Homo sapiens: one gene and its partners. The protein of the gene in region 1 purifies or fractionates together with the protein of each later gene. This does not show direct contact. Each region holds a gene or a part of one and is shown on either strand. Other genes may lie near its edges. The genes, in order: TOMM70, AMBRA1 and MARCHF5.

The links.
Region 2: the proteins of TOMM70 (region 1) and AMBRA1 purify together in Homo sapiens (affinity purification with western blotting, with the first as the bait; one study listed by BioGRID). This does not show direct contact.
Region 3: the proteins of TOMM70 (region 1) and MARCHF5 purify together in Homo sapiens (affinity purification with western blotting; 2 studies listed by BioGRID, with this or other methods). This does not show direct contact.

What each region holds. Positions count from the first base shown.
Region 1 is NC_000003.12:100,366,457-100,370,109, forward strand, and holds part of TOMM70 (mitochondrial import receptor subunit TOM70), read right to left. Parts: intron 2,680-3,653; coding exon 2,582-2,679; intron 1,711-2,581; coding exon 1,588-1,710; intron 1-1,587. UniProt on the Homo sapiens protein: Acts as a receptor of the preprotein translocase complex of the outer mitochondrial membrane (TOM complex). Recognizes and mediates the translocation of mitochondrial preproteins from the cytosol into the mitochondria in a chaperone dependent manner.
Region 2 is NC_000011.10:46,398,911-46,402,118, forward strand, and holds part of AMBRA1 (activating molecule in BECN1-regulated autophagy protein 1), read right to left. Parts: intron 1-3,208. UniProt on the Homo sapiens protein: Substrate-recognition component of a DCX (DDB1-CUL4-X-box) E3 ubiquitin-protein ligase complex involved in cell cycle control and autophagy.
Region 3 is NC_000010.11:92,311,615-92,315,267, reverse strand, and holds part of MARCHF5 (E3 ubiquitin-protein ligase MARCHF5), read right to left. Parts: intron 1-3,653. UniProt on the Homo sapiens protein: Mitochondrial E3 ubiquitin-protein ligase that plays a crucial role in the control of mitochondrial morphology by acting as a positive regulator of mitochondrial fission and as an important regulator of immune response.

The DNA of each region.
Region 1 (3,653 bases):
TAAGGTACATTTTATTGGCATATGTGCCAGTTAGACTTTATATGCCAGTAAGAGGTACCACTAGGGTGACTATATTTAATCCCCCATTATAATATATGGCAACGTGATAGGCTTATTTTTAAAAAAAACTTTTTTCAAGAGTTCATGTTCTGGCATTAGGCCAACAGCTAGCAGATCTGCAAAATCCTAGGATAATCTGCAATTTCATTTATTCAAATTCACTTATTTAATTGTAAGGTTCAGAATGGATTTTTTCAAAGTTCAATTAACGTGAACAAAATTCCATCAAACCCTATCAGAGGTCTTTAGTTAACCCAGGATCTATGAAAGCCTTGAATTAAAAGCAAAGTGTTTTTGTGTGCATTATTCTAAGAAGAATCCACAGCTTCGCTCAAAAAAGATTAAGAACTACCACCCTATCCTATTCTAGTACAAGAATATTTTATTCACATTAACAAATTAGCAATTAAGAAATAATTTAGGCTGGGTGCAGTGGCTCACACCTGTAATCCCAGCACTTCAGGAGGCTGAGATGGGCAAATCACTTGAGGCCGAGAGTTTGAGACCATCCTGGCCAACATGGCAAAAGCCCATCTCTGCTACAAATACAAAAAGTTAGCTGGGCATGGTGGTGCATGCCTGTAGTCCCAGCTACTTGGGTGGCTGAGGTACAAGAATCACTTGAACCTGGGAGGCAGAGGTTGCAGAGTCAAGATTGTGCCACTGTACTCCAGCCTGGGCTGGAGACTCTGTCTCATAAAAAGAAGAAAAAAAAACTTAATATTTACATGCCACTGTGGGTACAGAATGGTTAAAAGAAACACAATTTTTTTTTTACCAGCCTATATATATTCTGCCTACTGTAGAGCAGGGAGAGGACTACAGGAGGGGCTGAATGATAGGGAATTAAGAAAACTCATGCTGCTTCCTGACAAGTGATAATGCCAAGATCAGTGACTGTGGTATCAGTGATATATGAGCTCAAACCCTGTCTTCTCTATTGGCTTACTGTGCAACCTTGTAAACCTAAGCCCTCTGGGCATCAGTTAAATTAGGGATCATATAATCTCCACCTTTATAAAGATGGGGATGAAGATTAATTGAAATAGTACTTAGGAAACATCTAAAGTTTAATACTTGGCCTAAAGTAGGAAACTCAAATGAATGGCAATACCAGTATTAAGATGGTATACAATAAATCCCATATATAAAACAGCTGTCACCTTTTAATGGTGGATCTTAAGAGCAACTCTGGATAAACACTTACACAAAATAAGAGGTTAAGGACAGAGCTGCAAAAAATGTTCTTATCCAACTCTGATTTTAAAGAAAATTCAGGGGCTCTGAGTTGATGTTGCAACTTGCCCAGCCATTTGGCTGGATGCTTCTTTGGAGGAGGGTCCAGATTTTCTGGCAACTTGGCTACCAATCCTTATGTCACTGCCTTAGCACATTTTTTTTTCCAACGTGAATAATACAGGTGAAAAGAGGAAAGAACATAACAGACTTTAACATGTACGTAATAAGAACAAAAAGCTAAATATCTATGGAGCTACCATATATTTCCTAACAGACTCCAGAAGTTACCTTTGTACTTCAATAGTTCCCATGGTTTCATAGGCAAAATCACATTTATTGTCAATTTCAATAGCCTTGCTGATAAGTTCCAAACCTCTATCCAGATCTTGCTTCCACTGAAGTTGAAGTAAACTGCAAATGCAAAAAAATGTCAGATGTGACCATGGCCCAGTATCAGTAGGAATACACACACATTAATATGACTCAATTTCTGCCTTCAATGAACTTATAAGTTAACTTATAACTTATAAGGCAATATATAATCAGCATCAAATTGTGTTTTTTTTCTCAGCTTATATTGGTTTGCTAGTCTAAGTTCCTTATTACAAAAAGTGTTCAATGGTCTAGGCTCTATTACCAATCTTGCATCCCTTATTTTTCACTTTATATAAATTTAAGTGAAGTTTCTTAGGATAATTCAAGTACGCAAGGACACGAACACTTGTGTATGCTTCGTATTTGGATATAAGCCAACAGCTGACAGGATGTTCAGTTTGAAATTAAAACCCTTAACACAGAGCAAGAATAGTACATTAATTTCTTTCTTTTTGTTTTTTTTGGGACAGAGCCTCACTCTGCCGCCCAGGCTGGAGAGCAGTGGTGCAATCTTGGCTCACTGCAACCTCTGCCTCCCAGGTTCAAGTGATTCTCACTCCTTAGCCTGCTGAGTAGCTGGGAATCGGGCATGTGCCACCACACCTGGCTAATTTTTTGTAGTTTTAGTAGACACCGGGTTTCACCATGTTGGTCAGGAGGGTTTCGAACTCCCAACCTCAGATGATCTGCCTGCCTCGGCCTCCCAAAGTACTAGGATTACGTGTAAGCCACTGCGCCTGGCCTCCTTAACTAATTTCTGTAAGAATGAAAAGACATCTAGGAGCATTAAGAAGTTTGTCAATTAACTTCTCTACCACAGTCCCCTTCCTCAGTGGCCAAAATAAATACATTTTATTACTATGCAAGAAATTTATTATCTCATTGGAACAATCACAAAAATACATACCCTTTATGAACATATGTTGTAGCATTATCTGGTTCCAAATCAATACATTTATCATACATTTCATCAGCTTTACCAAACTGTTGTTGATCTGTTAATGCCTATGTGAGGAGATACTTCAGTTATATTAAGGTAACCGTCAACCTAAGCAGTTAAAAGTATACTTATTATTCATTATAAAAATTTACTTCATTCATTATTACAAAATTATCACGTTTTGGGGATACAGACTGATTTACATTTTACATCTTAATTATCGGAGTTTTTAGGTGGCACTGCTATAAATATGAAATCTTAACTATCCTCTTTCTTCAGCAAGTGGTTAGTTATATGCCACAGCAGATAATCTCTGGTAAACTGTTCAATACAGATAATCCCATTCTTAGTCACAGCTCTAATATCACATTCTCATAGGTACAGTCACATCACTTATTCATAATTTATCATAATACAGCCCAAGGGAATTTTTTTTTTTTTTTTTTTGAGATAGAGTTTCATTCTTGTCACCCAGGCTGGGGTGTAGTGGCGCAATCTCTGTTTTCTGCAACCTCCGCCTCTTGGGTTCAAGTGATCCCCCTGCCTCAGCCTCCTGAGTAGCTGGGACTACAGGCGCCCAACACCTTGCCTGGCTAATTTTTGTATTTTTAGTAGAGATGGGGTTTCACCATGTTGGCCAGGTTGGTCTCGAACTCCTGACCTCAGGTGATCCACCCACCTCGGCCTCCCAAAGTTCTAGGATTACAGGAGTGAGCCACCGCACCTGGCCAGGGAATTATCTTAAGGGCAATATTCATTTGGAAGTATAAGTTAAGATGTATGTGTTAAATGTCTTCAGAGCTATTTGTTTAAAATTATTGATTTTTTAAAAAGCAGCTATAACTGCTTCAACTAATATATCTCCAAAAATAATTCCCTAATATTATCTATAATACCTAGCCCATATTCAGTTAACCCCGGTTATTTATAAGATGACTTTTAAGAAGTATGTGAGTCATTATATTTAGCTGTATGGCTCTTAGTCTTTTCATATCTAAAATAAGCCAACTTAAATATTTTAAAAATCGCTCTTAAAAAT
Region 2 (3,208 bases), on another chromosome or scaffold:
TTACAGGCATGCACCATCATACCTGGCTCATTTTTGTATTTTTAGTAGAGATGGTGTTTCCCCATGTTGGCCAGGCTGGTTTCGAGCTCCTGACCTCAGGTGATCCACCCTCCTCGGCCTCCCAAAGTGCTAGGATTACAGGCGTGAGCCACCACGCCTGGCCATATTTATTTATTTTTTTGAAATGGAGTTTTGTTCTAGTCGCCCAGGCTGGAGTGCAATGATGCGATCTCAGCTCACTGCAACCTCCACTTCCTGGGTTCAAGCCATTCTTCCGCCTCAGCCTCCGAGTAGCTGGGATTACAGGTGCCCGCCACCACACCCAGCTAATTTTTGTATTTTTAGTAGAGACGGGGTTTCACCATGTTAGCCAGGCCAGTCTCGAACTCCTGACCTCAGGTAATCTGCCTGCCTCAGCCTCCCAAAAGGCTGGGATTATAGGCATGAGCCACCGTGCCCAGCCTTTGTTTTTTGAGATGGAGTTTTGCTCTTGTCACTCAGGCTGAAGTGCAGTGGCACAATCTTGGCTCACTGCAACCTCCACCTCCCAGGTTCAAGCGATTCTCCTGCCTCAGCCTCCTGAGTAGCTGGGATTACAGGCTCCCACCACACCTGGCTAATTTTTTGTATTTTTAGTAGAGATGGGGTTCCACCATGTTGGCCAGGCTGCTCTCGACCTCCTGACTTCAGGCGATCCGCCCACCTAGGCCTCCCAAAGTGTTGGGATTACAGGCGTGAGCCACCGTGCCTGGTCAGAAGCTGAGAGTTTTAACTGTTCCTTGGAAGGGCTGTTTCCTTCTCTTCTTTCCCTTTACCCCCCAGTCTTCACAAGCTATTCCCCAGTTATTGTTCTCCTGGGGCTCAATGCCTGATGCCATATTTCCCGGAAAAGAGTCAACTGACCAGCACAGGACCCAGGTCTAGGGAGGGAGAGAAGGATCTGTCCGCCACTCCCTCTGCAGAAATGCCTGAGCATTCCCTTGTGTGGGAACAGAAAAGACTTCGGCTCAAATCTCAGCTGTCACTTGCTTGCTGGGTGACCTTGAAAAAAATCCCTAACATCTACCTTGCACGGTGCTGGAGAGAGAAAAGGAGCTAACGCACAGCCCAGGCACTTGGTCAACGGTGCCTGTTGTGATTAACTTGGGGTCTGCAGCAGTGGAGCTCTATTGCTGTGGGACCTCCCTTCCAGCTTTCTGCTCAGCTCTTGGTAGGGTGAGAACCAGGCCAAGACCGTGGGCAACTATGATCAAGGCTCTGAGGCTGCGAGGGATGGCTCCACTGAACTGCTGATTTGTCTCCATCAGCTACTGTTTGGAATTTTGCAGTTTTGGGGGTTTTGATGGTGAGTTTTCTTTCCTTTTGGGGTACTTGCCAGCAGCTATTTTTATGAGACTTTCTTTGCTCCCCTAACCCCATCCATCCCCTTCTCTCTGCCTGCCTCATTAGAGTTGGATTTCCAGGCCAGCCAGTTTCACAGCTTGGTGGCATCTAAGGCCCCAAGAGATCTCTCACCCTTCTTGTTGGTACTTGGCAGCCTCATGCTTCTAGTTCTTTCTATAGTTTTTTTTTTTTTTTTTTTTTTTTTTTTTTTTTTTTGAGACCAGGTCTCGCTATGTCACCTAAACTGGAGTGCAATGGTACAAACATGGCTCACTGTAGCTTAGCCTCTTGGGTGCAAGTGATCCACCCACCTCAGCCTCCTGAGTAGTAGGGAGTACAGGCAAGCACCACTCCTGGCTAATTTTTTGTACTTTTTGCAGAGACGGTTTCGCCGTGTTGCCCAGGCTGGTCTTGAACTCCTGGGCTCAAGCAATCCTCCTGCCTTGGCCTCCCAAAATGCTGGGATTACATGGGTGAGTCACTGCGCCCAGCCCCAGTCTTAGACGATCTTCCTCAGCATTATGTCCTCTCTTGCTTTTCTGGACAACCCCTGATAAAGCACTGCCCTCCATCCCTCAAGGTGGCTGCCCTTCCCCACTTCCTCCTGGGACACCCGGCTCCAGCTCCCAGGGCAGAAGGAGAGAAAACCTGAAGGGCTCTCAGAGTACTGGGTCAACCCCATCTTCAGGTTTTAAAGCCTTCTAACAGTGGGGCAGAAGGTAAGAAGAAAAAAGTCAACCTACGGCCTTGGTGCCCACAGAGATTCTACCCTGGGAGCCAAGGGCTGCCTGGGGAGGTCCCCTGGGGCCCTCCCTGTGCTCACTGTAGCCCCAATGCTTTCTCAGAACTCTGTGCACTGAAGCCCTCGCAGCATGGTCTGGGGCGTGCTGTGGCTGGCCTGAGGCCTGCTGGCATTGGAGTGCACTGTGCCAGGCGCTGTGCCTAGTGAATTCTCAGCTCTTTTCGAGACAGAGTCTCGCTCTGTCGCCCAGACTGGAGTGCAGTGACATGATCTCAGCTCACTGCAACCTCCACTTCCCGGGTTCATGCAATTCTCCTGCCTCAGCCTCCCGAGTAGCTGGGACTACAGGCATGTGCCACCATACCCAGCTAATTTTTGTATTTTTAGTAGAGACAGTGTTTCATCATGCTGGCCAGGCTGGTATCAGACTCCTGACCTTGTGATCCACCCACTTGGACCTCCCAAAGTTCTGGGAGGCATGAGCCACCGCACCCAGCTCAGCTCTTCTCAAGTAGATTACCAGGGGCAGAACAGGCTGCCTTGGGGCCCTATGGGTGCTGCTGCAGCCAAGCCCCCAGAGAGCCCCGGATGGGCTTTCCCAGGCTCTGCGGGAGGCCCTGCTGCTGGCACTCAAGTCTGAGCCCACTGCTTGCTTGCCTATGGCTCCAGGCCTGGCCACCCCTCTCTATGGCTATGACTGTGTCCTAACTGGGCTTCTTGCTTCCAGTCTCCTCCCCTTCCGTCTAGTCTCCACACTGTTCCTATTACCATCCTAATTCAGCTCTGCTGACTTGAGCTCTGGTTAAGTCTGCACCCTGTTCAAAACCCAGCAGCTGCAAAAGCCCTCACAGTAGTCAAAACTCCTTAGCTTGACATTTGAGGGCTCTCTGGCCAGACCCTTATCATGCTGCAGACCTTCCTGCCCTGTCCCCCACATTCCTGCAGGTACCCGGCAGCCCTGCTCCCTGCCTGCACAGATGGGCATACACTGTGCACACTGTGCCATGCTCTCGTCCCATCTCCTCTGCCACCCACTTCTCTCTGGTCCCCCAGCTAGAAGGGGATGCTCCTTCTCTGGGACCT
Region 3 (3,653 bases), on another chromosome or scaffold:
GCAGGCTCTTAAGTATTTTGTTTAATGGCTGCATGAAGCCACTAGCGTACAGAGTACGAATCAACTCTTAGTATATACGAATGTAACATGTTAATCAAGAAATACAAGCAACTTTTTAAAAGTTTTAGAAGAAGATATTTTCTTTTAACCAACAATTATTTTTGAAACTTGAATTGAAAAGTTGTGCTGGAATCAGCATAGCTAGAGCACTAGCTTTGTGTGCAGCAATGAAGAGCCCACCACCTGAAAGCCAATTCACACATGGCTTCATTTACAGACAACAGCTGGCTTGAGTCATTGTTAATAACTGCATGGAAAATTGTGAATATAATTAAAATTGCAGCCCTTGAATAGGTATCTTCAGCATGTTAAGAATGCAGCGGCAGGCTGGGCACACAGTGGCTCATGCCTGTGATCCTAGCACTTTGGGAGGCCAAGGTAGGTGGATTGCTTGAGCCCAGGAGTTTGAGACAAGCCTGGACAACATAGCAAGACCCAACCTCTATTGGCGGGGGGGGGCGGGGGGAAGCAGCAGCAGCAAATACTCTGTTTTTCTGTTTTGTCAAGAGGAAATATGCTAACAATACCTACTCAAATGAAGGATATACTTTTTTTTTTCTTTTTTTGAGACAGAGTCTTGCTCTGTCGCCCAGGCTGGAGTGCAATGGTGTGAGCTTGGCTCACAGCAACCTCTGCCTCCCAGGTTCACGTGATTGTCCTACCTCAGCCTCCCAAGTAGCTGGGATTACAGGCGCCTGCCACCACGCCTGGCTAATTTTTGTATTTTTAGTAGACACAAGGTTTCACCATGTTGGCCAAGCTGGTCTTGAACTCCTGATATCAGGTGATCCGCCTGCCTTGGCCTCCCAGTGTTGGGATTACAGGCGTGAGCCACCGTGCCCAGCGGATATTCATTTTTTTTTATAACACTGATGTCATTAAAACATATCTATGATTTTAAGCGGCTAACTCAAGTGCCATACCTCTATGACAGACAGTATAGTGACCAGCTTGAACATATCATTTGAGAGTAAAATTATAATTCTCTCTTTTATTTAAGATTGGTTTCACTCTGTCACCCAGGCTAGAGGGTAGTGGCGCAATCATAGCTCAATGCAGCCCCAAACTCCTGGGCTCAAGTGATCCTCCCAGCTGAGCCTCCCGAGTAGCTAGGACTTACAACAGGTGTGCTCCATCACACTTGGCTAATTTTTTTTCTTTTTCTTTTTCTTTTTTGTAGAGAGACAAGGTTTTGCTATGTTGCCTAGGCTGATCCTGACCTCGTAACCACAAGCAATCCACCCACCTGAGCCTCAAAAGTGCTGGGATTACAGATGTGAGCTACCATGACTGGCCACAATTCTTTTTTGTTGTTCAGACAGGGTCTCACTCTGTCTCCCAAGCTGGAGTACAGTGGCGCAATCACAGCTCACTGTGGCCTCCACCTCACAGGCTAAGGCAATCCTCCCACCTCAGCCTCCTGAGTAGCTGGGACTACAGGTGTGTGCCACCATGCCCAGCTAATTTTTTTTTGTTATTTTTGGTAGAGATGGAGTTTCACCCTGTTGCCCAGGCTGGTCTCAAGCAATCTACTCGCCCCAGCTTCCCAAAGTGTTGGGATTACAGGTGTGAGCCACTGTGACCCGCCACAATTTTTTTTTTTAGCACGGCGTCTCGCTCTATCTCCCAGGCTGGAGTGCTGTGGCGCTATCTTGGCTCACTGCAAGCTCTGCCTCCCGGGTTTACGCCATTCTCCTGCCTCAGCCTCCCGAGTAGCTGGAACTAGAGGCACCTGCCACCAAGGCTGGCTAATTTTTTTGTATTTTTAGTAGAGATGGGGTTTCACTGTGTTAGCCAGGATGGTCTCGATCTCCTGACCTCGTGATCTGCCAGCCTTGGCCTCCCAAAGTGCTGGGATTACAGGTGTGAGCCACCGCGCCCGGCCCGGCCACAATTCTTAGTAACAAAATATGCAGACTAAATAATGATACAAATGGCTTAACCAAAGAGTTTTACTCTTTTCTTTTTTCTTTGAGATGGAGTCTCGGCTCTGTCGCCCAGGCTTGTGTGCAGTGGCACGATCTTGGCTCACTGCAACCTTTGCCTCCTGGGTTCAAGCAACTCTTCTGCCTCAGCCTCCTGAGTAGCTGGGACTACAGGCACACGCCACCATGTCCAGCTAACTTTTGTATTTTTAGTAAAGACATAGTTTCACCATATTGGCCGGGTTGGTCTCGAACTCCTGACCTCGTGATCTGCCCGCCTCTGCCTCCCAAAGTGCTGGGATTACAGGCGTGAGCCGCCACGCCCAGCCAAGATTTACTCTTTTCTAACAACTAGGTAGACTTAAAACCATATTCAATTACTGCACTAAACCTGAAAACATATTTCCTAGAACTGAATTCAACCAAAAGGACAGATCTACACATTGCCATCTCCAAAATTAAAATACTCAACTTTGCTTTCGAGTGCCATACACTTGTCAACTTGATGTAGTTTTCAGTGAGAATTCTTGTAATAATTTTTGTGTCCATTTGAATATCTAAAACATCTAATAGAAATATTTAATTGTTGCTCTTCCCAACTCTATAATTCAAAGGTGGGGCTATCTAATTTAGTACAACTAAGAGCAAGAAAAGAAATCAGTTAAATATGAAACCTTAACTTGGACTTTAGTGAGTCTTTCACCATTCATGTGGTGGTACAATAATGTGAACAATCATTGCTTTTCCTGATACTGATTTAAAAATACTTCTTTGATCTTACAATAAAAACATTTTGAATTATTCTTTTGTGTTTATCTAAAATCAGTGGTATGCACTGAAGACCCATCACATGGTCCACAAATTCCAAATGTTTGAAAACACTACTTTCTCTACTACACTACTTCCCCTTCAAAGGAAGCTATCATTTCTTCCTGTGCATGTTAGAGAAAAACAGAGAACCAAGGACATTTTGTTTGCCCTTATTATTAATCTTCTCATATTAGAAAAGCACTTCATTATCTGCATTTATGTTGCCACATTTTCAAAAACATTGGTCTGATTTCAGTATGAATAGCACTTATAAAAAACAATATATATAATAATTATTTCCAATTTTTCCTGAATTCCCTCTGCCCCCAAAGACATTCTTTCCTTATGACCTTCCCAGAACCCAAGCTGCCTTCCTATACCTCTTGGTTACAGTCAAGGGTTATAAAAAAATGTTTAACAACTGGCATGGTATAAACACCAAACCAAGAGATTGACACCAATTTATAACTGTATGGCTGTAATGGAACAGGCTCACTAAATATCAGCCTTAGTTATACTGCTGCTAAAGAAGCAGCCTTAGAATGCTTCTTGTAAGCAGTCTGCTATACTTTTTTTCCATGCTAGGCCTGTTCTCAAAGATCTTTGGTTATTTCTTACCTGCCACTTCACAGAAAAGGGATAGCAGGGTTCATGAAAGAAACCACATAAATTGGATTCCAAAGATGAGTTTAACGTCACATCTTATTAAATATTTAATTTCTCTACTTTTATTCCTTAAAAGGAAGAATTAAGGAGAAGTATTAGAACATACTACTGCTTTCTTTCTCTTACACCGTCTCCAGATAATTAAGCTAAGTTAGTTTTTTTTTTAAAAGTCAGCTTTTTATTAGAGCTTTG